Homo sapiens: one gene and its partners. The protein of the gene in region 1 purifies or fractionates together with the protein of each later gene. This does not show direct contact. Each region holds a gene or a part of one and is shown in the gene's direction. Other genes may lie near its edges. The genes, in order: ARHGEF39, HEATR1, SLIRP, PEX13, CSDE1, LBR and PPM1G.

Evidence for each region.
Region 2: the proteins of ARHGEF39 (region 1) and HEATR1 purify together in Homo sapiens (affinity purification with mass spectrometry; one large-scale study listed by BioGRID and IntAct). This does not show direct contact.
Region 3: the proteins of ARHGEF39 (region 1) and SLIRP purify together in Homo sapiens (affinity purification with mass spectrometry, with the first as the bait; one large-scale study listed by BioGRID). This does not show direct contact.
Region 4: the proteins of ARHGEF39 (region 1) and PEX13 purify together in Homo sapiens (affinity purification with mass spectrometry; one large-scale study listed by BioGRID and IntAct). This does not show direct contact.
Region 5: the proteins of ARHGEF39 (region 1) and CSDE1 purify together in Homo sapiens (affinity purification with mass spectrometry; one large-scale study listed by BioGRID and IntAct). This does not show direct contact.
Region 6: the proteins of ARHGEF39 (region 1) and LBR purify together in Homo sapiens (affinity purification with mass spectrometry, with the first as the bait; one large-scale study listed by BioGRID). This does not show direct contact.
Region 7: the proteins of ARHGEF39 (region 1) and PPM1G purify together in Homo sapiens (affinity purification with mass spectrometry, with the first as the bait; one large-scale study listed by BioGRID). This does not show direct contact.

Annotation. Positions count from the first base shown.
Region 1 is NC_000009.12:35,662,396-35,666,635, reverse strand, and holds the start of ARHGEF39 (rho guanine nucleotide exchange factor 39), read left to right. Parts: upstream 1-1,440; 5' UTR 1,441-1,466; coding exon 1,467-1,604; intron 1,605-1,785; coding exon 1,786-1,880; intron 1,881-2,143; coding exon 2,144-2,264; intron 2,265-2,509; coding exon 2,510-2,628; intron 2,629-3,243; coding exon 3,244-3,314; intron 3,315-3,561; coding exon 3,562-3,690; intron 3,691-3,894; coding exon 3,895-4,124; intron 4,125-4,240. UniProt on the Homo sapiens protein: Promotes cell proliferation.
Region 2 is NC_000001.11:236,584,017-236,587,516, reverse strand, and holds part of HEATR1 (HEAT repeat-containing protein 1), read left to right. Parts: intron 1-26; coding exon 27-115; intron 116-1,064; coding exon 1,065-1,276; intron 1,277-1,575; coding exon 1,576-1,697; intron 1,698-2,300; coding exon 2,301-2,492; intron 2,493-3,500. UniProt on the Homo sapiens protein: Ribosome biogenesis factor; required for recruitment of Myc to nucleoli. Involved in nucleolar processing of pre-18S ribosomal RNA. Required for optimal pre-ribosomal RNA transcription by RNA polymerase I.
Region 3 is NC_000014.9:77,711,103-77,714,600, forward strand, and holds part of SLIRP (SRA stem-loop-interacting RNA-binding protein, mitochondrial isoform 1 precursor), read left to right. Parts: intron 1-3,498. UniProt on the Homo sapiens protein: RNA-binding protein that acts as a nuclear receptor corepressor. Probably acts by binding the SRA RNA, and repressing the SRA-mediated nuclear receptor coactivation. Binds the STR7 loop of SRA RNA.
Region 4 is NC_000002.12:61,031,220-61,034,719, forward strand, and holds part of PEX13 (peroxisome biogenesis factor 13), read left to right. Parts: intron 1-199; coding exon 200-894; intron 895-3,500. UniProt on the Homo sapiens protein: Component of the PEX13-PEX14 docking complex, a translocon channel that specifically mediates the import of peroxisomal cargo proteins bound to PEX5 receptor.
Region 5 is NC_000001.11:114,730,485-114,733,984, reverse strand, and holds part of CSDE1 (cold shock domain-containing protein E1), read left to right. Parts: intron 1-127; coding exon 128-253; intron 254-1,168; coding exon 1,169-1,381; intron 1,382-3,336; coding exon 3,337-3,477; intron 3,478-3,500. UniProt on the Homo sapiens protein: RNA-binding protein involved in translationally coupled mRNA turnover.
Region 6 is NC_000001.11:225,411,039-225,414,538, reverse strand, and holds part of LBR (delta(14)-sterol reductase LBR), read left to right. Parts: intron 1-1,893; coding exon 1,894-2,085; intron 2,086-3,098; coding exon 3,099-3,202; intron 3,203-3,500. UniProt on the Homo sapiens protein: Catalyzes the reduction of the C14-unsaturated bond of lanosterol, as part of the metabolic pathway leading to cholesterol biosynthesis.
Region 7 is NC_000002.12:27,399,592-27,403,091, reverse strand, and holds part of PPM1G (protein phosphatase 1G), read left to right. Parts: intron 1-3,500.

The DNA of each region.
Region 1 (4,240 bases):
CCACCCAAAGCACTAACACACACTGGCAGCATTCACAAACACACCCATCACCAACTGCACCCCAGGTGTTGTGGTCTACTCTCATCACCTGGGCTCACAGTGACACCAATTACCATGGGATTATCTGTCCTCTTCCATGTTTGAGCTCTTAGTGTGTGGACTGTCCCACATTCACTTGAGACAGTGTAACCAGTCCTTTACCTATCTGGTATCACCACCAGTTTCCTTGGGACATAAGCCCAAGGTACAGTCTGATCCAAACTCTCCCCTTCCTTCATCCAAGCCCTTCAAGTTATTCCTCCCTGGTCTAAGCCCAGCATTATTCCTTTCTTAGAATTCTTAGAATGTCAGAGCTGGTGGGGAGGTGGTAGAGACCTCAGAACCCTGACAATCCTCTGGTTCTTGGCTTGCGGCCCAGATTCCTAGGAGTCCAAAACAGTAGGGAGGGAGCCTAAAGTTTCTGACATTTTGTTTTTTTTAATAACTTTTTTTTTCTAACTACAAAGTAATGCATGCTTAATGTAGAAAACTTGGGAAAGGCAGAAGTATAAGAGAATTTTTAAAATCACCCTGTTTGTCCCATTCATCCCTTTAGCTTCAGTGATCCAGTGCCTGGCACAGATACAGATTAGGTACTTAATACACATTTGTTAAACACATTATCTTCAATTCCATTACCCGGAGATAAAAACCACAGTTAACTTTTTATTTTTATTTTTTATTTATTTATTTTTTTTTTGGAGAGATGGAGTCTCGAACTCCTGGGCTCAGGTGATCCTCCTGCCTCTGCCTCCCAAAGTGCTGGAATTACAGGTGTGAGCTCCCGTGCCTGGCAACAGAGTTAACTTTTGATTGTTTTGCCTTCCAACATTTTATATATGTTTTATACAAAGGGGATTATATTATACACCTTTGTAGCCTGCTTTTTTTCCTCTCAGCAATATACTTACTATGTGCGTTTTCCCATATCGATAGCTTCTTTACAACACCATTTTTAATACTTTCATATCATTCCTTCAAATGGCTATACCTTTTCCTAGCCAATTCTGGGAACAACTGACCCCCTGGCATTTGGCATGGGCCCAGGACAGAATGTGTACTGTAATGACCGCCCCCCGTCCCAATTCTCCAGATAGGACATTAAGTTCCTGCCAGCATCTGCAGCCCGTCTCCTGACTCAAAGTTCAGGCTGCTGCTCCAACATAGTGCCACTCAGAGGAGGGCTCCACACCTGCCCCCAACCTTGCCCTGCCCTGCCCTGCCTTGGCCGGCGCCGCGCACCTAAAGCGCCGCTCTGGCGGTGGGGCTGGACAGAAGAGACCCTGCGCGGTCCGGCCGCTCGCCGCGCATGCTCCTTCCTGCGCGCTGCCCTCCCCGGCCCCGCCTCCGCGGCTCCCGCCCGCGAGCGGTTGGGATTTGAATCTGCCGCGGACTGCAGCCGGAAGTGTCGATCCCTCAGCCAGGGCATGGAGCTCTCCTGCCCCGGTTCGCGGTGCCCGGTGCAAGAGCAGCGTGCCCGCTGGGAGCGGAAACGCGCCTGCACCGCCCGGGAGCTGCTAGAGACCGAGCGGCGCTACCAAGAACAGCTGGGGCTGGTGGCCACGGTGGGGGACCTGGCACACGCTCCCATTATAGGACAGGGACCCCAGGGTGTGGGAGGGTCTCTGCGAGGTCGGTAACCCGGAGCATGTAGGGAGCCTGGGCAGACTTCTGCGGTTTCTGGGGGCGCTTGGCGTTAGCCTTCTCTTCCTCTAGGCTAAGAACCAATGTTCTCTCCTTCCGCAGTACTTTTTGGGGATCCTGAAAGCCAAGGGGACCCTGCGACCACCTGAGCGCCAGGCCCTGTTTGGCTCCTGGGAGCTCATCTACGGCGCCAGCCAGTGAGTGGAAGGGGCACAGGGAGAGGAAAGGAGGGAGAGTCCTGGCCTGTGGCCGTGCACAGAGCTTGGAGTCAGACTTAGGTTCTATTTGGAGTCCGCCAGTTAGCTCACCTGTGGCCTTGGCCCAGGGCCTTAGCATGCCCTTGTTCTCCATCTGTACAATGGGGTAATAGCACTACTATTAGTGCTATTCTCATGAAAACTAAATGAGGTGGTGCTTGAGTGGTTCTAGAGCTGCCCTTTTGCTGTCCTTGCCCACACAGGGAGCTGCTTCCCTACCTGGAAGGAGGATGCTGGGGCCAAGGGCTGGAGGGCTTCTGCCGCCACTTGGAGCTCTATAACCAATTTGCTGCCAACTCAGAGAGGTCCCAGACCACCCTGCAGGTAACCTGGAGATGACCTCAAATCTTGCCCCTTACCTTTCCCCTTCATCTGGAGACCCAAACTTCATACATTTCCTGCATTTATAGAGCCCTCTGGGTGCTCAGCTCTGTGGTAAGTTCCTTGTAGAGAAACGAGAGTTTCTCTCAGGAGCACAGCTTACTGAAGGCTGGGAATGTGGATACAGATGAATGCAATATAAGGAGTGGCTTCTCTCCCTGCTTCCAATCCTTTCTCCCTCACTCCAGGAGCAGCTAAAGAAAAATAAAGGTTTCCGGAGGTTTGTACGGCTTCAGGAAGGCCGCCCTGAGTTTGGGGGCCTTCAGCTCCAGGACCTGCTCCCTCTGCCTCTGCAACGGCTCCAGCAGTGAGTGAACTCTTGATTCCAGCCGCCTCTCTCTTTTAGTTTGTATGACTGCTGCCCTCAGCTTTGTGGGATGCCTTGGGGTCGATCCCAAACTCTTGCCTCGACCCTGAGCCAAATTGCTTCTAAAAACCTTTTGCAAGAGTAAATGTGAACCCATTGGAGTACCCAGGGTCTGCAGCCTGAGGCCCTCAGCTGGAACTGTGGAACTTTAAATTGAAGTGAGGGGGCCTGTACTAGGGCCTGAGGCACGGTTTCTGGAAAAGTTTCAGATGCGGGGCTGGCCTGGGTTAGAATTTCTGTCTCTGGGTTAAGCCTGAGTTAAGGGCTATAGTCAGGCTGTCTGTAGCATCCTCCTTGGGTTGATAAACTTTCATCTTCCAATCTGGCCTCCTGAAGTATGGCTAGTCTGCCAGTGACTCTTCAGTGTGGGATGGAAGAGGGCTGTGTGGTGTGAGCCTGGTTCTGAGTCCTACATGAAAGAAGGGGATACAGTAGCCAGAAGCAGATCTTTCCTGGCCTTCAATTGAAGTATGGGTAGAGGGTGATCTGCACATCAGGCAGGGGGAATTCTGCCTGGCTCTGCTTCCCCTCAGACTTCCCACTGTTGAATTCCAGGTATGAGAATCTCGTCGTAGCTTTGGCTGAAAACACAGGTCCCAACAGCCCTGACCATCAACAGCTCACACGTAGGTTCTTGCTCCTCGGCAACGCAGGCTGGAGGCTTCCTCTCCTGTATTCCTTTCTGATTCTGACCTCCAACAATGTCTGGTATGACCCTATCTTCCACTGACATGTATACAGTGTCCCTACTGCTCTGCCTTTTCTTCAAGAAGTCAGACCCTGACCCTGGTCCCTTCCAGAATAACCTCTTTCACAACCATGGCACCCAAAGTCAAAGTTGTATGGGGAGTAAGGTGGGAGATGTTATTCCAGGGGCTGCCCGACTGATAAGTGAGACTGCCCAGAGAGTCCATACTATTGGTCAGAAACAGAAGAATGACCAGCACCTTCGGCGTGTCCAGGCTCTGCTCAGTGGACGCCAGGCAAAGGGGCTGACCTCAGGTAGCTTGCCTACTTCCCCTTCAATCCTCAACTGCCCCATCTTTTATTTTTATCTAACTCCAAATGCCGACCAGCTGCTCTTTTCTTACTCACCCTTCTTCCTGTACTGACCCAGCACATAACCCCTATTTTCTCAGCCTCCCTTTCCTCTTATTCCCATGTATCTTGAAGCTGCACCAGAATAACAGCGCTCCCATCCCCCAGGGCGCTGGTTCCTACGCCAGGGCTGGCTGTTAGTGGTGCCTCCCCATGGGGAGCCTCGGCCCCGCATGTTCTTCCTCTTCACTGATGTGCTCCTCATGGCCAAGCCTCGGCCTCCACTGCACCTGCTGCGGAGTGGCACCTTTGCCTGCAAGGCCCTCTACCCCATGGCCCAGTGTCATCTCAGCAGGGTCTTTGGCCACTCAGGAGGCCCTTGTGGTGGGTTGCTCAGTGTAAGTAATAGGTGGGAACCCTAGACCCAAAATATGTCTCAGATGCTTATGGGCTGGTTTATCTCCCTGGTCTGGGTCCCTTTTCATAGGAACAGAGCCATCTACATTGAGAGAGG
Region 2 (3,500 bases), on another chromosome or scaffold:
TACTCTGGATATTTTTTTCCCTTTAGATTTTCAAAGAACACTTCAGTTCAGAAGTGACGATTTCAAATCTTCTGAATCTCTTTCAAAGAGCAGAACTTTCAAAGAATGGAGAATGGTATGTATTCATTTCTCCTCATACTATTTTGAATTGATGAAGTTCTTATATCAAGTTCTTTCTATTTCTTCTTCTTTTTTTTTTTAAGGCTTTGATTACATGACCCTTTTGTCGTGGTAGTAGAACAGATCTTACTGTAATACTCTCTTTCATTATACAGTTAATTAATTTGTGTTTGTGTGTGTTCATTATACTGTTCTCTATGTTTGGAATTTCTCTTAATAAAATGCAAAAGGAAGTATATAATGTATGATATTGCATTCTGGGAAGTAAGATGGGTAGGACTTTCTAATTTGCTGCTTTATGTAATTTTTACTTTATAATTAAAAACAAATACCAATGTGTTAAACAAATTAAAAAATAAGTTCAGAGACACATGATACCATCTGTGGTAAGTTTTTAATGAGCTCTGTTTATTTCATTTTTGGCACCAAAGCTTTTTGCAAGAAAAAGTAAGCAAGCTCCATAGAGGATGAGAGTGTGTCTTACGTGTTTTTGTATCTATCGTATGGGTAGATATCTATCATGTAGGATGTGCTTGGTTCATTTTTTTTGAGTGCCTGAGTGAACCTGATTTCCGGTAGAGTTGAGACATCTAGTGTGATATGTCTTATGTTATAGTTAACCTCTAGTGATTTCTCTAAGAAAAATTATTATTTTTTTTTTAAGATTAGACAGGATGAGCAGATTAAAAGTATTGTTGGCCAGGCACAGTGGCTCATGCCTGTAATCCCAGCACTTGTACAAAAAATAAATAAATAAAAATATTGTCACAGATAACTCTGTTATTGGCATGGATTTTAAGTGGTGTCTTAGTGTATCTGAATAATAGTTTTGGTCAGGAGACCAGGATATTGTCAGTTAAGCTGGAGTAATGTAATGATGAATTTTTGCCCAATTGAAGCCTTCCAATGTGTCTTTCAACCAAGTGTGCTTGCATGTCTTTTAGGTACGAGGTACTTAAGATAGCCGCTGACATATTAATTAAAGAAGAGATACTGAGTGAAAATGATCAGTTGTCAAATCAGGTGGTTGTATGTTTGCTGCCATTTATGGTTATCAATAATGATGATACGGAATCTGCTGAGATGAAAATTGCTATATATTTATCAAAATCAGGAATCTGCTCCCTGCACCCTCTATTAAGAGGCTGGGAAGAAGGTAAAAAATTCAGTTGTTTTTTTAGAAAAAGTGAACAGATAACACAAAAGAAAACAAGGAAAATTTAAAATTTATTGTTGGTCATGCTTATATGCCAGTAAGGTCTTTTAAAATTTTTGCCAAGATAAAAAGTATACAGTGAAAAGGAAGCCAATTCATAGACAAATTCAGAATCGGATACAAGGAAAAATAGAAAGCAAACCTTCATAAACAATAGTAAAATGTTTGCCTGAATTCTTCATGTGATTCTTTGAGTGTTGGTGACATAAGAGCTCTCTGCATTCGATTTTACTTTACAGCTCTTGAAAATGTAATTAAAAGCACAAAGCCAGGAAAACTAATCGGTGTAGCAAATCAGAAGATGATTGAGTTGTTGGCTGATAATATAAATTTAGGAGATCCTTCTTCAATGTTAAAGATGGTAAGTATGCTTTGAAAGTCCACCCCCTGGATTTCTTTCTCATACTCTTATTAAATTCTCAGCTTTTGCTTTACTAGATTTTTCTTAAAAAAAATTTCTTTTATTCTTGAGTACTTGGTTTTACTTTAAACGTTGCAGTGTTGTTTAATATATTCTGTGCAATGTTTGAAATCTTTTAACATTTTATATATTTTTTCAATGTGGATCCATATCACACCCATAAGAATAATATATCCTTTTTACCACCATTTTTTCTCATTCCCATTTAAAATATTAGTCTTTTTGTTGTTGTTGTTGTTAAAATAGCAAAATATAATCCCAAAGAGGAGAAAATTATCTTTGCCTTATTAAATAAACCTTTGTAAAGGATTAGATGTGTGATTTAAATACATTAACCAGTTGGCAAGTGCAATTATGTTCATTACAGTTTCTGAAATTATTCTTATAATTACTTAGAAATCAGTGCTTAGTACTTTATAAAGGCTTTCTGTTTGTCATCTCACTTTAAATGTAAAACACATAATACCTAGATAGACCTGAGTTGAAAAAATTGTTTTATGAAAATCAAGAGCAACTGGTAATAGAGTGTGTTTATTTTTCAAGGTGGAGGATTTAATAAGCGTGGGTGAGGAGGAGTCCTTTAACCTGAAGCAGAAAGTAACGTTTCATGTGATCCTGTCTGTGCTCGTCTCTTGTTGTTCATCTTTAAAAGAAACCCACTTTCCATTTGCGATAAGAGTCTTCAGTTTGTTGCAGAAAAAAATAAAGAAGCTTGAAAGTGTCATTACTGCAGTGGTAAGGAAAGCAGAATCTCCAGAAAGTGGGATGTTGAATAAAACAACAGCCTGGCCTATTAGTCACAGCAAAACTGAAAATCAGAGGCGAGATGTTGAGTCTGTGGATAGTAGCTGGATGAAATGTGAAGCAGTCTTGGGTAGCAGTGAGATAGTCAACTAGGCACTCCCTTGCTTTTGCGGAAAGTTTAGTTGAATTATAAAATTTTAGGGTTGCAATATTTTGTATCTGATGCCTGACTCTCCTCTCTTTTATTGTCTTTATTGGATAATTACCCAAGCTACACCTAACTACCTCTAGCGATGAAGAATTCACTTGGTGTGTTAGTGCTTGAACAAAATACTATTTCATTCAATTGTTTACTAAAAATAGATCTTTTAGGCTTTAAATAATTTTAATATTACATAGATGTGTATCCCTCCAGCCTACTACTGTCTTTCATAGTATTACTAAAGGACATGTTTCAGCTGTTTACATTTGACATGTTTTGAGGTAGCAAGACTTTTTTTTTAATATCTGCTATATGTAAGGATTTTGTTTTTATTTGTCCTCCAAATTTTAGAGGGCTTCTCATTATAGGATTTACTAAATGAATTATATCTTTTTCACATTTACGTATACCCGCAGGATTTTATAAGTTCTGATCATGGCCATTGTTAGCTAAAATGTGTAAACTTTAAAAAGAGTAAAATCTTCATATTTTGAAAAATAGTCCAGATAGGCCCTTCTTAACTTTTAGTTTCTTGGTGTCTTTTGTGAAGTATGATGACCTGAACTATACTGGTTCTCAGTGTTAAAAGTATGGACAAATAGAGTGTTTTATTATACATATGTAGATAACAGGTTATTTTATATTGCTTTACTTTTAATACCTTTCTCGAGGTCATGAGCATGTTTTCGCCTGTAGCAGCACGTTGAGTTAATCAAATCCCTCACTGGAGACGTTACATTGTAAATCTGGCTTTGGATTATTTTCCTTCTAAGTTATTACTCTGTACTGCTTGTACA
Region 3 (3,498 bases), on another chromosome or scaffold:
AAATGCTTGAGGGGATAGATACCCCATGCTCCATGATGTGCTTAATTTACATTGCATGCCTATATCAAAACATCTCATGTACTCCATAATAAATATACATATTTATATATATAAATATATAAATATATACACCTAATAATATATAAATATATATAAATATATACCCAAATAAATATATACACCTACTATACACTCACAAAAATTGTTGAAAAAAAAGCTTAAAGTGTTTTAAAAAATTCTTATCTTGCAACAGGGTCTCGCTCTGTCCCCCTGCAGGGGTGCAGTGGCCTGATCTCACTGCAGCCTCTGCCTCCCAGGCTTAAGTGATCTTCCTGCCTTGGCCTCCTGAGTAGCTGGGACTATAGACATGTGCCACCATGCCCAGCTAACTTTTTTGGTATTTTTTAGTGGAGACAGGGTTTCGCCATACTGTCCAGACTGGAAAATTTTTTTAATTTTCATTTTCTTTAAGAGACAGGGTCTTGTTCTGTCACCCCAGGTGGAGTGCAGTGATGCAGTCATGGCTCACTGCAACCTCTGCCTCCCAGGCTTAGGTGATCCTCCCACCTCAGCCTCCTGAGTAGCTGGGACTACAGGCATGCACCACCACACCTGGGTAATTTTTGTATTTTTTGTAGAGATGGGGTTTCGCCATGTTGCTTATGCTGGTCTCGTCGAACTCCTGGGCTCAAGCTATCCGCACACCTCGGCCTCCCAAAATGTTGAGATTACAGGTGTGAGCCACTGTGCTGGCTTATTTTTGTGGAGATGGGGGTCTTGCCATGTTGCCCAGGCTGATCTTGAACTCCTGGCTTCAAGCAATCCTCCTGCATTGGCCTCCCAAAGTGCTGGGATTACAGGCGTGAGCCACTGTGCCCGGCCTACAGTCTTTATTGATTACATTTTGAGTGATACTTGATTAAAAAGTGAAAAAGCTTTATCATAGGTATTTGTGTTAGTTTTTTTATTGTTGTATAACAAAATACCACAAGCGTAATGGCTCAAAAACAACACATCTCTCACAGCTGAGCACAGTTTAGCTGGGTCCTCTCCTTAGGATCTCACATAGCTATATATTCCAGGTGTCAGCTGGGGCTGTGGTGTGTCTCATCAAAGGGTCAACTGGGGAAAAAGACTGACTTGCAAGCTCCCTCATGTGGTTGGCAAAATTCCTTTTTTTTTTTTTTTGAGATGGAGTCTTTCTCCCTTGCCTAAGCTGGAGTTGCAGTGGTGCAGTCTCAGCTTACTGCAACCTCTGCCTCCTGGGTTCAAGCCATTCTCCTGCCTCAGCCTCCTGAGTAGCTGGGACTACAGGCATGCGCCACCACGACCGGCTAATTTTTTTTTTTTTTTTTTTTTTGAGACGGAGTCTCACTCTGTGGCCTAGGCTGGAGTGCAGTGGCGCGATCTCGGCTCACCACAAGCTCTGCCTCCTGGGTTCACGCCATTCTCCTGCCTCAGCCTCCTGAGTAGCTGGGACTACAGGCGCCCGCCACTACGCCCGGCTAATTTTTTGTATTTTTAGTAGAGATGGAGTTTCGCTATGTTGGCCAGGCTGGTCTCGAACTCCTGACCTCAAGTGACCCGCCCGCCTGGGCTTCCCAAAATGCTGGGATTACAGGTGTGAGCCTTCATGCCCGGCCATAATTCATCTTTAACTGTAGGACTGAGGTCTGTTTTCTTGTTGACCTTTGGCTCTGAGTTGGGAGCTGCTCTCACCTAGGAACTCCCTGCAGTTCCTTGTTACCTAGTTTATCTGTAGGCTGTCTTACAATATGGCAGCTTGCTTCTTTAAAGCCAGCAAGGGCTTCTCCAGTCTGCTTAAGATGGCATCTTATACAGAACATAATCACAGGAGTGACATCCCATTACTTTCGCTGTATTCTTTTGGTTAGAAGCAAGTCAGGTTTCTCCTCCACCCAAGGAGGGGAGGAGATTATATAGGGTGTAACATGGGGAATGCATGGAGATCATGGGGCCCATCTTAGAATTCTGCCTACTACAGTATTCTAATAAGGACTTGAGATTTCTAATAATTGGCAGAGGATATTTTAAGTTTTATCTTCATTGAGTACCATTTTCTTTTTTAGATTTATAACTAATAAAACAATATTTTTATATTAATTACATTTCCTTTGCTTTCTTGTGAGGGTTTAGAAATCAGCCTATAAATTTATCCTGGGCTGTATTTTTCTGTGGGCTTTTTTAGGGTGTGATGTGAGTACATAGAGTTCACACACACTTCACTGAAACCCTTTTTTCCTTGCAGCACTGTAAGGGCTGTGGTAAAATAACAACATAAAGGAACTTAAATTCTTAATTCTTGGTTTAATGTTACTTGACTCCCAAAGACTAACAGATTAGTTATATATAGTGCCGGTGAAGGTGTAGGGAATCTGGCACTCAAGTTGTTGAGAAGTTCAACTGGTACCTTCAGTTCTGTTGTGTAGTTGGCAAAATACCAAAGTTAAGAATTTATATTTGCTTTGATCTAGCGGTTACTTTTCTAAGAATTTATCCTACAGAAATGTGTGGTCAAGAATATTCCAAAGCAGCATTATTTAATGTCAAGTAAGAAGAAGAAACTTAAATGTTCATCACTGGGATTGATTAGATATTAAGTCACTGATGCAATGGAATTTTATATAGTTGAATAGAAAAGTTGGGCACATGTATTATGGACATGAAATATTTTCTGTAAGTTTGAAAACTTCAATTTTTTCAAGAGCATTTAAATAAAAAGTTCCTTGCAAAAAAATGAATAGATTTTTATTGGTCCATAAATAAAATAGGACCTGCAAAGAATAGATCTTAGATTTAAATAAAAGGCGGCTTTGATGTTGGTAAAACAAAATAAAATATGACAAAAAAAATATTTTTTTGTTCCATTCATTGTACTCTAGTTGGAAATCCTGGTTCCTTTTTTGAGACAGGTTCTCTCTCTCACTCAGGCTGGAGTGCAGTGGCACAATCAAGTTCACTGCAGGCTTGAACTCCTGGGTTCAAGGGATCCTTCTGCCTCTGCCTCCTGAGTAGCTGGGATTAGTCGTGTGCCACCACACCTGACTAATTTTTTGTACTCTTTGTAGAAATGGGGCTTCACCATATTGCCCAGGCTGGTCTCGAGCTCCCGCACTCAAGCAGTCTACTCACCTCAGCTCCCAAAGTGCTGTGATTACAGGCATGAGCCACCACACCTGGACTGAGTTATTTTTTTTGAGACAGCCTTGCTCTGTCGCCCAGGCTGGAGTGCAGAGGCGTGATCTCAGCTCACTGCAATCGCTGCCTCCTGGGTTCAAGTGATCCCCCTTCCTCAGTCACCCAGATAGCTGGGACTACAGGCATGGGCCACCACACCCAGCTAATTTTTGTATTTTTAGTAGAGATGGAGTTTCACTATGTTGGCCAGGCTGGTCCCAAACTCCTGACCTCAAGCCATCCATCCACCTCAGCCTCCCAAAGTGCTGGGATTGAGCCACTGCACCTGGCCTATGTTTT
Region 4 (3,500 bases), on another chromosome or scaffold:
GGTTGAGGCTACAGTGAGCTTTTGATTGTGCTACTACACTCCAGCTTGGGCAACAGAGTGAGACCCTGTCTCTAAATCAATTAATCAGTCTTCAGTAGAATTTGTCATAGCACCAGGTATATAGGAGATGTTTAATACTTACTTTGAATTGAATTTATTGTATGCTTAAATAACTGTTTTGAATCTTTTTTGGTTTTAGATCTGCTGATTTGGGTCCTACTTTAATGACAAGACCTGGACAACCAGCACTTACCAGAGTGCCCCCACCTATTCTTCCAAGGCCATCACAGCAGACAGGAAGTAGCAGTGTGAACACTTTTAGACCTGCTTACAGTTCATTTTCTTCTGGATATGGTGCCTATGGAAATTCATTTTATGGAGGCTATAGTCCTTATAGTTATGGATATAATGGGCTGGGCTACAACCGCCTCCGTGTAGATGATCTTCCACCCAGTAGATTTGTTCAGCAAGCTGAAGAAAGCAGCAGGGGTGCATTTCAGTCCATTGAAAGTATTGTGCATGCATTTGCCTCTGTCAGTATGATGATGGATGCTACCTTTTCAGCTGTCTATAACAGTTTCAGGGCTGTATTGGATGTAGCAAATCACTTTTCCCGATTGAAAATACACTTTACAAAAGTGTTTTCAGCTTTTGCATTGGTTAGGACTATACGGTATCTTTACAGACGGCTACAGCGGATGTTAGGTTTAAGAAGAGGCTCTGAGAATGAAGACCTCTGGGCAGAGAGTGAAGGAACTGTGGCATGCCTTGGTGCTGAGGACCGAGCAGCTACCTCAGCAAAATCTTGGCCAATATTCTTGTTCTTTGCTGTTATCCTTGGTGGTCCTTACCTCATTTGGAAACTATTGTCTACTCACAGTGATGAAGTAACAGGTAAGAGAACTGTAAGGGAACAGGTTCAGATACCATATAACAATCTCAAATTTCAAGAATAGATTTGTTAGTTTTCTTTATATTGATTTGTATTTACTGTTTCCAGTTATATTTTCAGTTAAGAGCTTCAAAACTGGCAGAGGAATATATAGCAAAAATAGGCTTGCTGATTAGTTTATTGTTCAGTTTAATAGTGCACATTACCTGTTTACAAGGTACTGAAATTGGTGCTGTGGAGGATACAAAGATACATAGGGCATAATTCCTATCTTTCTAAAATTTATTGGAAGGGAGGTGGTTTAAGACACATATACAGGTAATGAGGCAGAAAGTGTGATAAGAAATATAACAATTGGGGAGAGACATAAGGTTTCTTGAACCTTTTTTAATATGCAAGACACTGTGCTAGGTATTTTGTGTGTTTTATCTCATTTAATTATTTCAACAATCCAAAGAGATAGGAATTATCCTCATTTTGCAAGTGATAAAACTGAGATCCAGAGAACTCACTTACCTAGGGTCACATCTTTAATAAGGCAGAACTATAAACAAAACCAGGACTGGTTGAATGTTAAGCTGTATTCTCTCAACTAGTAGAGAGTATTAGCTCACTTTAGAAAAGAGAAGCTAACATTTTTTACTGTGGTATCCAGGAAGAAATGGCATCTAAGTTAGATTTTTGAAAGCTAGGCAACCTTTCAAAAGTTAGATAAAGAAACAAAAACTATCAAGCTGATAGACCAGCTTGAACAAAAGTATATAGGCAGAAAATATGAGATTTATTTGGTAGTTGTCCTATAGTATTGCATTGGATCGTAAGAAATAATGCTGAGAAATTAGGTTGAAAGCTAATAGTAGAAGCTCTTAATTGGCATTATGAGACTTAATCTTTACATAAGGAATGGATGGTTTTTTGGTAGTTTATGTTTGTTTTTGTTTTTAAGCAGACTGTGACATACATGTAAACGAAAAAGTCAGTCTGAAGGGTTTAAGATAAATCAGTAGAAGTCAGCACGTTGTAATTAGGTGGTAAAGTTCATAAAGGATTTGGGTTGTATTCACCTTTGTATTCCTACTGTCTAACCTGCTTGACACATAGAAGGTACTTAATAGATATTTATTAATTTGGGGGCATCAGTAATGATACTTTTGCATTAGACTGTTTGAGAGATAATGAAGACCCAAAATAGAGTGTGTGAGAAGCAGGATTCATATAATAGATTCAGAGGATGTAGTTACTGACTAAATGAGGTATATAAAGGCAAAGTAGAAATCAAAATGCCCTAGACCTTTAAATTTGGGTTATTAGAAGGATAATGTTTTATTAACTCAATAAATATTTGTTGGGTGCCAACTACATACCAAAGAATTCTCAGAGCTAGGGATATAGCAATGAATAAAATATATTCTAAAAATCTCTGCCTTTGTGGCAGTCTAATAGGGAGAAACAGTAAATAAATAAGTAAAATATATAGTAAGCCAGAAGGTACTGGTAAGTGCTATAGGGGAAAAAACAAAACTGGGAAGAATTTTGGGAGTGTCAGGAGGAGGAACAGGGGTTGCAGTGCTACATATAGTCAGGGAACGCCTCCCTGAAGGAGTTAAGGGAGTAAGTCCTACAGCTCTTTGAAGGAAGAGTGTTTTCAGTCATAGGGAACAGCAAAAATGTAGAGGTATGTAAGTGGCATATCATGGGAACGGGAAGGAGGCCAGTGTGATTGGAGCAAAGTGTTAGTGGCAGGAGATGAAGGGAGTAGATGGTATAAGTTGTAGACATGTGTAAGAACATTGGCCTTTATTCCAAAATGGGAAGCCACTGGAGATTTGTGAGCAAAGGAGTAATATGACCTGACTTAGGTGTTTTTTTTTGTTTTGTTTTTTGTTTTGTTTTTTTTCTTCGGGAGACAGAGTCTTGCTCTGTCACCCAGGCTGGAGTGCAGTGGCGCGATCTCAGCTTACTGCAACCTCCACCTCCTGGGTTAAAGCAATTCTCCTGCCTCAGCTTTCTGAGTAGCTGGGACTACAGGTGTAGGCCACCACACCCGGTTAATTTTTTGTATTTTAGTAGAGACGGGGTTTCACCGTGTTGCCCAGACTGGTCTCAAACTCCTGAGCTCAGGCAGTCTGCCCACCTCAGCCTCCCAAAGTGCTAGGATTACAGGCATGAGCCACCACACCCAGCCGACTTAGGTTTTAAAAAGAATACCTTTTTGCGGGCAGTCGCTTCCAAGATAGCCAAATAGGAACAGCTCCGGTCTGCAGCTCCCAGCAAGATCGACGCAGAAGGCGGGTGATATCTGCATCTCCAACTGAGGTACCTAGTTCATCTCACTGGGACTGGTTGGACAGTGGGTACAGCCCACAGAGGGCGAGCTGAAGCAGGGCAGGGCATCGCTTCACCCAGGAAGCACAAGGGGTCAGGGGATTTCCCTTTCCTAGCCAAGGGAAGCCATGAGTGACTGTACCTGGAGGAATGGTACACTCCTGCCCAAATACAGCGCTTTTCCTATGGTCCTCGCAACTGGCAGACCAGGAGATTCCCTCCTGTGCCTGGCTCGGCAGGTCCCATGCCCACGGAGCCTTGCTCACTACTAGTGCAGCAGTCT
Region 5 (3,500 bases), on another chromosome or scaffold:
GACAGTCAGTTAACTTGATCTTTGGCCTTTTAAGATCAGAGTTGGTTTATGTTTTTAAGAAACACTTAAAATTATGTGATTCTTCCTTCCTCTGTCCCCCCACCACCTCCAACCCCTTCTGATTTAGGGTAAAGAAGTTGCAACAGATGTCAGACTATTGCCTCAAGGAACAGTCATTTTTGAAGATATCAGCATTGAACATTTTGAAGGAACTGTAACCAAAGTTATCCCAAAAGTACCCAGTAAAAACCAGGTAAATAATCTTTTTCAGGAGAGTCCTATTTCGCCTCAGTAGTAATAGAATAATATGGTGTGGTATACTGAGATTTTATCTTATTCAGTTAATATAATGTGGTAGTGGAACAACTAAGGACCTCTTGTTACGTATATTTAAACTAAAAGAGAAACCAGATTTATATATTCATAAATATGGTGTTTTTTTTTTTTTTTTTCTTTTTTTGTGACAGAGTCTCGCTCTGTCGCCAGGCTGGAGTGCAGTGGCGCGATCTCGGCTCACTGCAACCTCCGCCTCCCGGGTTTAAGCGATTCTCCTGCCTCAGCCTCCCAAGTAGCTGGGACTACAAGGGCATGCCACCACACCCAGCTAATTTTTGTATTCTTAGTAAAGACGGGGTTTCACCCTGTTGGCAAGGATGGTCTCGATCTCTTGACCTTGCGATCTGTCCACCTTGGCCTCCCAAAGTGCTGGGATTACAAGTATGAGCCACCTCGCCCAGCCAAATATGTATTTTTTTTTACTGGGTGATGAAAAAAGGCCAAAGAAGAAAATGCTAATTAAATTGGAAAGCACCTGATTGGATTAGACTGCAGTTCAGGTGTACATTTGTTCCCTCCTCTGCCCCTGCCCTACCCCTCCAGTTTGTGGGGAAGGTGAGGACACAAGTGGTGTCATTCCTGGAAAAATTCCTTAAATAAAATCTTTTGGTACCAGAGTGCTGGGTCTTAATTGCATTGTTGTAATTTTATGGTTGACTCGTGTGACCATAGACCATGAAGCTTTCACATTGGACTTATGTTGTCAACACCTTTTTTCGCTTCAGGGAACTAAGTTAAAAATAACATGGGTTTACTATGTGTTCTTCTTGTTTGACTTAGAACTAGGAAGGATGAGAAATCTCCAGCTAAAATCGTTTTTCCTTCTCATCAGAATGACCCATTGCCAGGACGCATCAAAGTTGACTTTGTGATCCCTAAAGAACTTCCCTTTGGAGACAAAGATACGAAATCCAAGGTGACCCTGCTGGAAGGTGACCATGTTAGGTTTAATATTTCAACAGACCGACGTGACAAATTAGAGCGAGCAACCAATATAGAAGTTCTGTCAAATACATTTCAGTTCACTAATGAAGCCCGAGAAATGGTAAGTGTTGGATATTACTGGATATGTATCTAATATGCGAAAGCCAATGTTATATTCAAGTTTATACTACTAAATTAAAATTTTTCTTAAGTTAAATGACCCTAATGGGCATTTACCTTGTTAAGGTGATTAAGAATCATACACATTTGAGTCAGTCTGGGTTATCTCTGGCAGTTATCTTGGAAATATATGTGAAAAAATTTTTTGAATGGAAATCTGGACAGGATTACTAAGATATTTTTAGAGTCAGTGATTCTCAGGCCCTTAATATGAAGAGTAAGAAAATTCAAGTTCATCATTGTAGAAAGTAGATTTTCCCAAACTATTTCCTAAGACATTTAATTAGTGGTTTCTGTTTTTAGGAAACACAATTCTTCCTCCAGTGTGGTCCAGGGAAGCCAAAAGATTGAACACCCATGATCTAGACACTAGATCACACATAAAATACACTAACAGCAATGATAGCTGATGAGCTTTTTTAAAAAAAAAATCATAGGCACGGTGGCTCACACCTGTAATCCCAGCACTTTGGGAGGCTGAGGCGGGTGATCACTTGAGGTCAGGAGTTCAAGACCAGCCTGGCCAACATGGTAAAACCCCGTCTCTACTAAAAATAGAAAAATTAGCCAGGTGTGACGGTGGGCACCTGTAATCCTAACTACTCAGGAGGCTGAGACAGGAGAATCGCTTGAACCTAGGAGGCAGAGGTTGCAGTAAGCCAATACCATGCCGTTGCCCTGCAACCTGGGTGACAGAGGAAGACTGTCTCAAAAAAATAATTGCAAAAACATCTCATCATGTTTTAAGAAGGTTTAACAATTTGTTGTGTTGGGCCACATTCAGAGCTGTCCTAGGCCATGGTTTGGACAAGCTTGCAATTAAACCAGAGTCAAAAAGGTTTTGTTTTGGCAGAACTTCACAAATTGTTTTTTAAGAGTTTGTGTCTGGGAGTGGCATAAACCAACCAGATTTTTTCCCAAACATGTTTTATGAACTCATTTTCTCAGACATAATTTGCATTTAGTTACGTTTGGGATCATATCATCTACACTATAACTCAGTGTTGCCAGTGGAACTGGGTACATTGAATGAAAATTTAAGTTTCTTGAGTTTTTTTTAATCCTTTGCCTTTGAAGAACTGGTTGTATTTGACACAGTGTATTTAACTTTAAAAGTTTGTAAGTCTGAATGTGTGATTTTTTTTTTTTTTTTTACATTTTCAAAGGCAAGATCTGTTTTGCTTTACGGTATGGAAAATATAACTTGGCTACTGTCAGGACTTGGCAAGGATTAAATGTCAAAATATTGTTTAGGTCATATTTAAAACTTACAGAATCACTTCTGCAGTGAGCAGATATGTAGTATGTAATACAATAGCAGATTGATAATTTGTGTTCATTGTTTCATTAAACATGAGTATCTACCATGTTCCAGGTACTCTTGATACAGTAAGCCTTACAAAGCTGATAATTTAGTAAGAAGGAAAAAAAAAAAAGAGAAAAGATTGCATATATTTTATTCTTCAGATGTAAATTTTAACTCTTTCCTGGGCCTAAACTCATGCAATTTTTGAGGTAGAGACTGGAGAAGTGCCTTTGTCTACTTTGGAATTATGGTCTGTAAATTAGTGAAGTTTCTGGAGATTATATTGTCATTAGACTTGGGCTTTTATGAAATACATTGTGTTCACGTGTTTACGTTCACATGTGGTAATTTTTTCTAGTGCATATTTGCCAGGAAGTAGCAATTGGAGAGTCTTAGAAAATTGCTCAGGTTAAGTTACTTTGTTGAAAGCAATGAGTTTGTACTTAAGTGAGAACAGTTCAAATGTGGATACAGTATTTGTGTCACATCAGAGAAAATTCCTGATGAATTTAACTTGATGGTGGTTGTAAAGTTGAATGTTGCCTTCTTGACAAGTTTCACAGCCAGTGAAAATATTATTTGGGTTTCAGGGTGTGATTGCTGCCATGAGAGATGGTTTTGGTTTCATCAAGTGTGTGGATCGTGATGTTCGTATGTTCTTCCACTTCAGTGAAATTCTGGATGGGAACCAGCTCCATATTGCAGATGAAGTAGAGTTTACTGTGGTTCCTGTGAGTTGTTTCTGAGAAAAGTT
Region 6 (3,500 bases), on another chromosome or scaffold:
CTCGCACTGTAAGAGCATGTGCTGAGTGCTTCAGTCCAGCTTTGTCATTTGAAGACTTTGGCAAAGTACAGATCTATTTTGTAGTCATCCTTGAATGATTTTCCATTTGACAAGACGGAGTAGAGTGTTTTCCTTTTCTTGAGAATTACATTATGTATTGTAATGGTTGAACTTTTTATCCTTTCAATTCTTCATTTTTTAACTTTGGATACTTTGTTTAGAGACTTACGCAGCATCTACTCTGTCTGCAGTCACTCCACTGGGTTCTAAAGGGGAAGCCAAAGATAGTTTAGACACCTTCTGCCTTTTAGTGCCAGTCATGTGATAAAACGTCTCCCCCAGCTCCAGAGTCTGACCCCTGGTGGGTGCTTAATACTTATCATTGGTATTGTTAGACTTTTTGTTGCTTTTACCAAATTCTTTGCTGATGGAGCAAGTTTTAGAACCTTTGGCACCCTCCCTCCCTCTGGTGGTTCACTTACCACACCAGGGAAGGTGAGTCTGGGGTGAGGTGGGTTGTTGACTTTGCCGCCAGGTCCTTTGATTTCAGTGTTTTGTGTGTTTCTCTGTAGGTACCAATTCTTTTCTAAGTAGTCTTGTGTTATATTTTCACTTCCCTCTGAGGGGTGTGGTACATTCAGAGACTGAGCACAGCACTTGGACATGGAGCTCTTGGAGCCAGTGGGGGAGTGGCTGGCCAAGTTGCTTGATCCTTTTTAAAAATTTCCTCATCTAATTACTCTGGTTCAAGTATTGAGATTTCTTTTCGAGATTTTACGATTATTAACTAAGGAGGTTCCTAAGACATTTTGGATGATTATTTTTAATCCACATAGGCTAGAGAGCAAAAGACTGCTTTATCTAACCATTCTTTTTTAAAATTACATTTTATGAAAGGTAAATGAATATTTTCAAAAGTCAGAATTTAGAAGTTATTGTTTGGAGTATTTGTGGAAAATGTGGATTCAGATAATTTGAGACAACTATTTTACTTTACAAAAGGTTTGGTTTTAGAATTCTCATATAAATAACAGCTACCTCTTTTTTGCTTTTGACCGTTTATCCAAATGGATTTGATGACTTTTTAGGATCACAGCTCTTTGAGGCACTCAGCTCCTTTGAAAGCAAAACTATTTCTTTAGCCAAAAGAAAAAAATTGGATCTTCCAGTGAGCCTTTCTGTGTGGCTGCAGGACTAGCCCGGAACGAGAGTTCTGTGGAGCGTCACAGGGCGGGTGCTTTTTAACTTGGCATTGCACGTGAATGTCCCCGCCTGCTGTCCCTACCCCCCAGGTACTCGCAGTCCCCTGCCTAGCCTCGGGCATTTGTGTTGTGGCATCTTTTCTGCGGGTGGCATGTTAAGATCTCTGTTCTGGATGATAGAGTTTTACTAGAATCTTTTGAAACCATTATTGGCAACTTGGTTAAGTATAAATATTTATAATTTTGTAACTACCAACCTGGCTCGGTGCCTGACCCCTGGTAGGTGCATAATACCCTCCCCTTAGGTAATGGCATTAGACTTTAAAATATGTGTTTGGCCCAGCTCTGTTAATAATTAGCCATTTGACTTTGTGCCTGAGAGTTTGGATTGTGGGAATTTTCAGGTTGCACTTCTTGTCTGTTTTCCCTTAATTAAAAGCAAATAATGACCATTTGAACTGAAAAAGAATCAATATGTTAAACTATTTGGAAAGTTCTACAAGAGATAATGGTATGTATATTGAAAATTATACCTCAGACATTGCTTATTTGCATATTTGTGTGTATTTAGTCTGAATAATGAAATTAAGACTTTAAAAATGAACATTGCATTGTTTCATAGTGGCGTAAGTTTCATGTGAGCCTTGGGTTAATATTAATTTTCCACTTCCTTTTTTTTTTTTTTTTAAAGGATTCTATGCTTTTATCCTGACATCTGCAGTCATCGGAACATCTCTCTTCCAGGGCGTAGAGTTTCATTACGTGTACAGTCATTTTCTTCAGTTTGCACTTGCGGCCACTGTTTTTTGTGTGGTCTTGAGTGTGTATCTCTACATGCGCTCTTTGAAAGCGCCCCGGAATGACCTGTCGCCTGCCAGCTCTGGTGAGCAGTGATGAATTGCATGTTGGATGAATGCGTCCCAGAGCCCTCCAGCAGCCATTTCCAGATTTGAATAGATTGCTTTTTTTCTAACTTCATTTTTGGGAAATGAAGAGAAGTAAGAAAAAATGAAAAGATGAAGAAAAACGTTAAAGAGATATGAATTTAAAGGAAGAAAATATTTTTGTTTTACCTTCATACTTTCTTACTCATTTCTTTTTTTTGCAGTTGCTTGATGACAGTAAGACGTTTAGTAAACTTACAGGCATTTTGACTTATGACAAATATTATTTCTTTGTCCAAAATAGTAAACACTCTTTAAAAAACAAAAAACAACAGAGGTTACTGGCCGGGTGAGGTGGCTCATGCCTGTAATCCCAGCACTTCGGGAGGCCAAGGCGGGTGGATCACCTGAGGTCAGGAGTTTGAGACCAGCCTGGCCAATATGGTGAAACCCCATCTCTACTAAAAATACAAAAATCAGCTGGGCGTGGTGGTGCACACCTATAATCCCATCTACTCGGGAGGCTGAGGCAAGAGAATCGCTTGAGCGTGGGAGGCGGAGGTTGCAGTGAGCCGAGACTGTGCCACTGCACTGTAGCCTGGGCCACAGAGCGAGGCTCCATCTCAAAACAAAACAAACAAAAAACAAGAGAAACGAGAGGTTACAAATTGGTTGATGCTGACCTGAAGTATTTCAATATAAAAAAATGTCGCCTATCTAAAAAAAATGGAGTGTAAAGTCCTTTGGGGGGGCCCCCATGATTTTGGTTAACTTTTTTAAGAAACCTGGGCCCCCGGCTCCCCCAAAGGCTGGAGCAACTGCCTTTTCAGTCGGGCAGGCATCTCCTGGTTCCGCTCGTCTGTGCCGTCCTGTCTGCCTCTCACCACCAGAGCCCTGCTCAGGGTCTTGCAGGCAGTGGAATTGTGAGCCTGGATAGTGGGCGGCAGTGCCGTTGTAAAGCCTCCTGACTGGGTTTGGAATGCTGTTTGGGTAAACACTTTTCCTTTCTCAGGAAATGCTGTCTATGATTTCTTCATTGGCCGTGAATTAAACCCTCGAATTGGTACTTTTGATCTCAAATACTTTTGTGAATTGCGCCCCGGATTGATTGGATGGGTATGTCTGGTTTTTTTTCTTCTAAATTTCAATTCAATAGGTCTAATTAACTGCTAGAAAGAAATGTAGACCATTCAAAAATAAGCAGTGGGTGGTATATTTTTAGGGATAATTATGGCTTTCCATAAATCTATCAAAATACTTTCTTGTAAGTATTTTCCAGAGGTTTAAGATGCCCTGTTACAGGTTATGACAAATTAAATAACTTTTCTTTGCTTTATTTTTATTATATCAGTTTATATTTATGTAGGAAAGTGATAGTGTGGATGAATTAATGTAAGAAAAAATGCATTTTCCT
Region 7 (3,500 bases), on another chromosome or scaffold:
AAGGAGTATGGGATTTCTTGTGCCGGTTCCTTCACATCCTCACTACACTTATCTGCCTTTACAGTGGCTCGATCATAGTTCACTGCATAGCCTTCTGGGCTCAAGGGGTCTTCCAGCCTCAGCCTAATATAGGCACATGCCACCATGACTGGCTAATTTTTTTTTTTTAAGTTTTTTTTTGTAGAGATAGGGCCTTGCAGTGTTGCCCAGGCTGAGGAATTTTATTTATGTTTATTTTATTTATTTATTTATTTATTTATTTATTTATTTATTTATTTATTTATTGAGATGGAGTCTTACACTGTCACCCAGGCTGGAGTGCAGTTGCGCGGTCTCAGCTACTGCAAGCTCCGCCTCCCGGGTTCATGCCATTCTCCTGCCTCAGCCTCCCGCGTAGCTGGACTACAGGCGCCCGCCACCACGCCTGGCTAATTTTTTGTGTGTGTTTTTAGTAGAGGCGGGGTTTCACCATGTTAGCCAGGATGGTCTCGATTCCTGACCTCGTGATCCACCCACATCGGCCTCCCAAAGTGCTGGGATTACAGGTGTGAGCCACCATGCCTGGTCTAGAAATTATTTTATATTTTATACCATTGCCTTATAAGTTCTCAAGCAACTGGAAAATACAATCAGAACGTATTCCTCAAGATTTCAAGGATATTTTACACAAAGTTCTATTGTCTGATTCCTTAGCAGTTGTTACTACTGTTTCCCTAACCTCTAATCTTCTATTGGGTTATTAGTCTTAGAATTGAATTTTGAGAGGTAAGGGCTTGAATTTGAACATAGAAATTTATACAGGTCTGATCAGTAGTTCTTGACATTGTATTATCTGGAAACAAATCTTTAGAACTGAGCTTAAGATGTTTAATGACATTTTGTAGACAGAGTATGATTTCAGTGTAGTTGTTTTTGTTTCTTTCTAGATCTAGTTCAGAGATGAAGTATATCAACTTTTTTTTCCTTTTTGACCCAATGCTAGCAGAAAAACAACACCTTTTAATCATATTTAGTATTTGAAAATGTGTATACAGGTTCCTTTTTATTTTATTTATTTCTTACAGGTTCCTTTTTAATCAGCTTTATTGAGATAGAGTTCATATACTGTATGGTTCATACCACATATGGTTCATATACCATACAGTATATGAACTCACTTTAAGAGTATAATTCAGTGGGTTTAAGGGTATAATTCATTCATTTTAAGGGTATAATTCAGTGGCTTTTAGTATATTTTCTTTTTTTTCTTCTTTTTTTCTTTTTTCGAGACAGGGTCTTGCTCTGTTACCCAGGCTGGAGTGCAGTGACGCAGCCTCAGCTCACTGCAACCTCCACCTCCCAGGTTCAAGCGAATTCTCTTGCCTCAGCATCCTGAGTAGCTGGAACTACAGGCTCACGCCACCACACCCAGCTAATTTTTATATTTTCAGTAGAAACAGGGTTTCACCATGTTGCCCAGGCTGGTCTCGAACTCCTGGCCTCAAGTGATCTGCCTGCCTCAGCCTCCCAAAGTGCTGGGATTACAGGCATGAGCCACCGTGCCTGCCTGTTTTGTAGTGTATTCAAACAGAGTTGTACAACTGTCACCACAATCAGTTTTAGAACCCCAAAAAGAAACCCTGTACTCTTTACCAGTCACTCCCTATCTTCCGTCCACTAACCCCTGGCATCCACTAATTTACATGACCTCTATGAATTTGCCTATTCTGAACATTTTATAAATGGAATTCTAAATACACTACCTTTTATATCTGGATGCTTTTACTAAGCATGTGTATTTTTGAAATTGACTTTAAAGCTTGTTGGCCCCTGGAAGAGTAAATTACTCTCCACCCCAAGTATTCCCTCTACCCCTCAGCTTTGCCTGTAAGTTTCTTTTTAAAAAAATCACACATACATTGTTGTAGTAGATTTAAGAATAAGTATTTTGCTGACCCAAGGTTCTTTTGCTTCTTTCTAGATCAGTGCCTTGCAGGTTTTATTTTACAGAGCTTAATAGAATCAGAAATCTCTTTAAAACTCCAGTCTCATATCCAGTTATCACTCACCATCTCTGTGTTTGCAGCAATAGCCAGGCCTGGCCCAGAGGGACTTGATCTCCACTTTTGGTTTTTAGACTTTTCTGTGGCTTTTACCACCTGCTGTGTATCCTTGACCTCATACTGCTGGACTCCTTTGGATGGATACCAGCAGGATGGTTCAGGCTCCAGTGGGCACTTTTTAAAATTCTCTCCTTCTGTTCAGATAGACAGAGCTCAGGCAGATCACCAAGTCTGTTGCCTGTGTAACCAGGAAAGAGATGCTAGTTTTCTTTTAGGCACTCCCATTTGTTTCTGTTGGAACCTTCCTCACTTAGTTGATGGAAGGGAAGCAAAAGACCCAGAACTCCATCTCAAATTAATGACTTAACAATTCTTGAATTTTCTCTTATCTCCTAGTTAACTCTTTTTCTTATCTCCAGGAGGTCAGTTTTAATTATTGTTGTTTATTCATTTATTTTCATGGAGACAGGGTCTTACTGTGTTGTCCAGGCTGGCCTTGAACCCCTGGCCTCAAGGAATCTTTTCACCTCAGCCTCCCAAAGTGCTGGAATTACAGGCATGAGTCACCACACCCAGCCTGATATTTTTCAGTTGATGTATCATAGTTGTGCCTAAGCATAATTTTTTAATTTTAATTTTTTATTTTTGGGGACAGGGTCTCCCTCTGTCGCCCAGGCTGGAGTGCAGTGATGCGATCTCAGCTCACTGCAACCTCCACCTTCTGGGTTAAAGCGATTCTCCTGCCTCAGCCTCCCGAGTAGCTGGGACTACAGGTACCCACCATCACACCCGGCTAAATTTTTTGTGTGTATTTTAGTAGAGACGAGATTTCGCTGTGTTGCCCAGGGCGGTCTCGAACTCCTGAGCTCAGGCAATCCGCCTGCCTCGGCCTCCCAAAGTGCTGGGATTACAGGCATGAACCACCACGCCCGGCCAAGCGTAATATTTTTAAGGGTCATCAATGTTGTGTCATGAATCAATCAGTGTTTCGTTCTTTTTTATGGTTGAATAATATTCCATGGTATGGATTTGTCACATTTTGTTTATCCATTCATTAGTTGATAGACATTTTGGATTTCCACTTTTTTTTTTTTTTTTTGCTATTATAAATAGTGATACTATGTACAAATTTTTGTGTGGAAATATGTCCTCATATCTCTTGGTTATATACCAAAGAGTGGAAGTGCTGGGTCATATGGTAACTACGTGTTTAACATTTTGAGAAACTGCTAAACTGTTTTCCAAAGTTGCTGTACCGTCGTACATTCCTGCCAGCAATATATGAGGATGCCAGTTCCTTCACATGTTCACTACACTTATCCACCTTTTTTATAATAACTAATGGTGGGTGTGAGATGGTATCTCATTGTAGTTTTGATTTGTATTTCTCTGATGGCTAAATGGCTAATGATGTTTGAACTTTTTGTTTGAGACAGAATCTCACTCTGTCCAGATTCA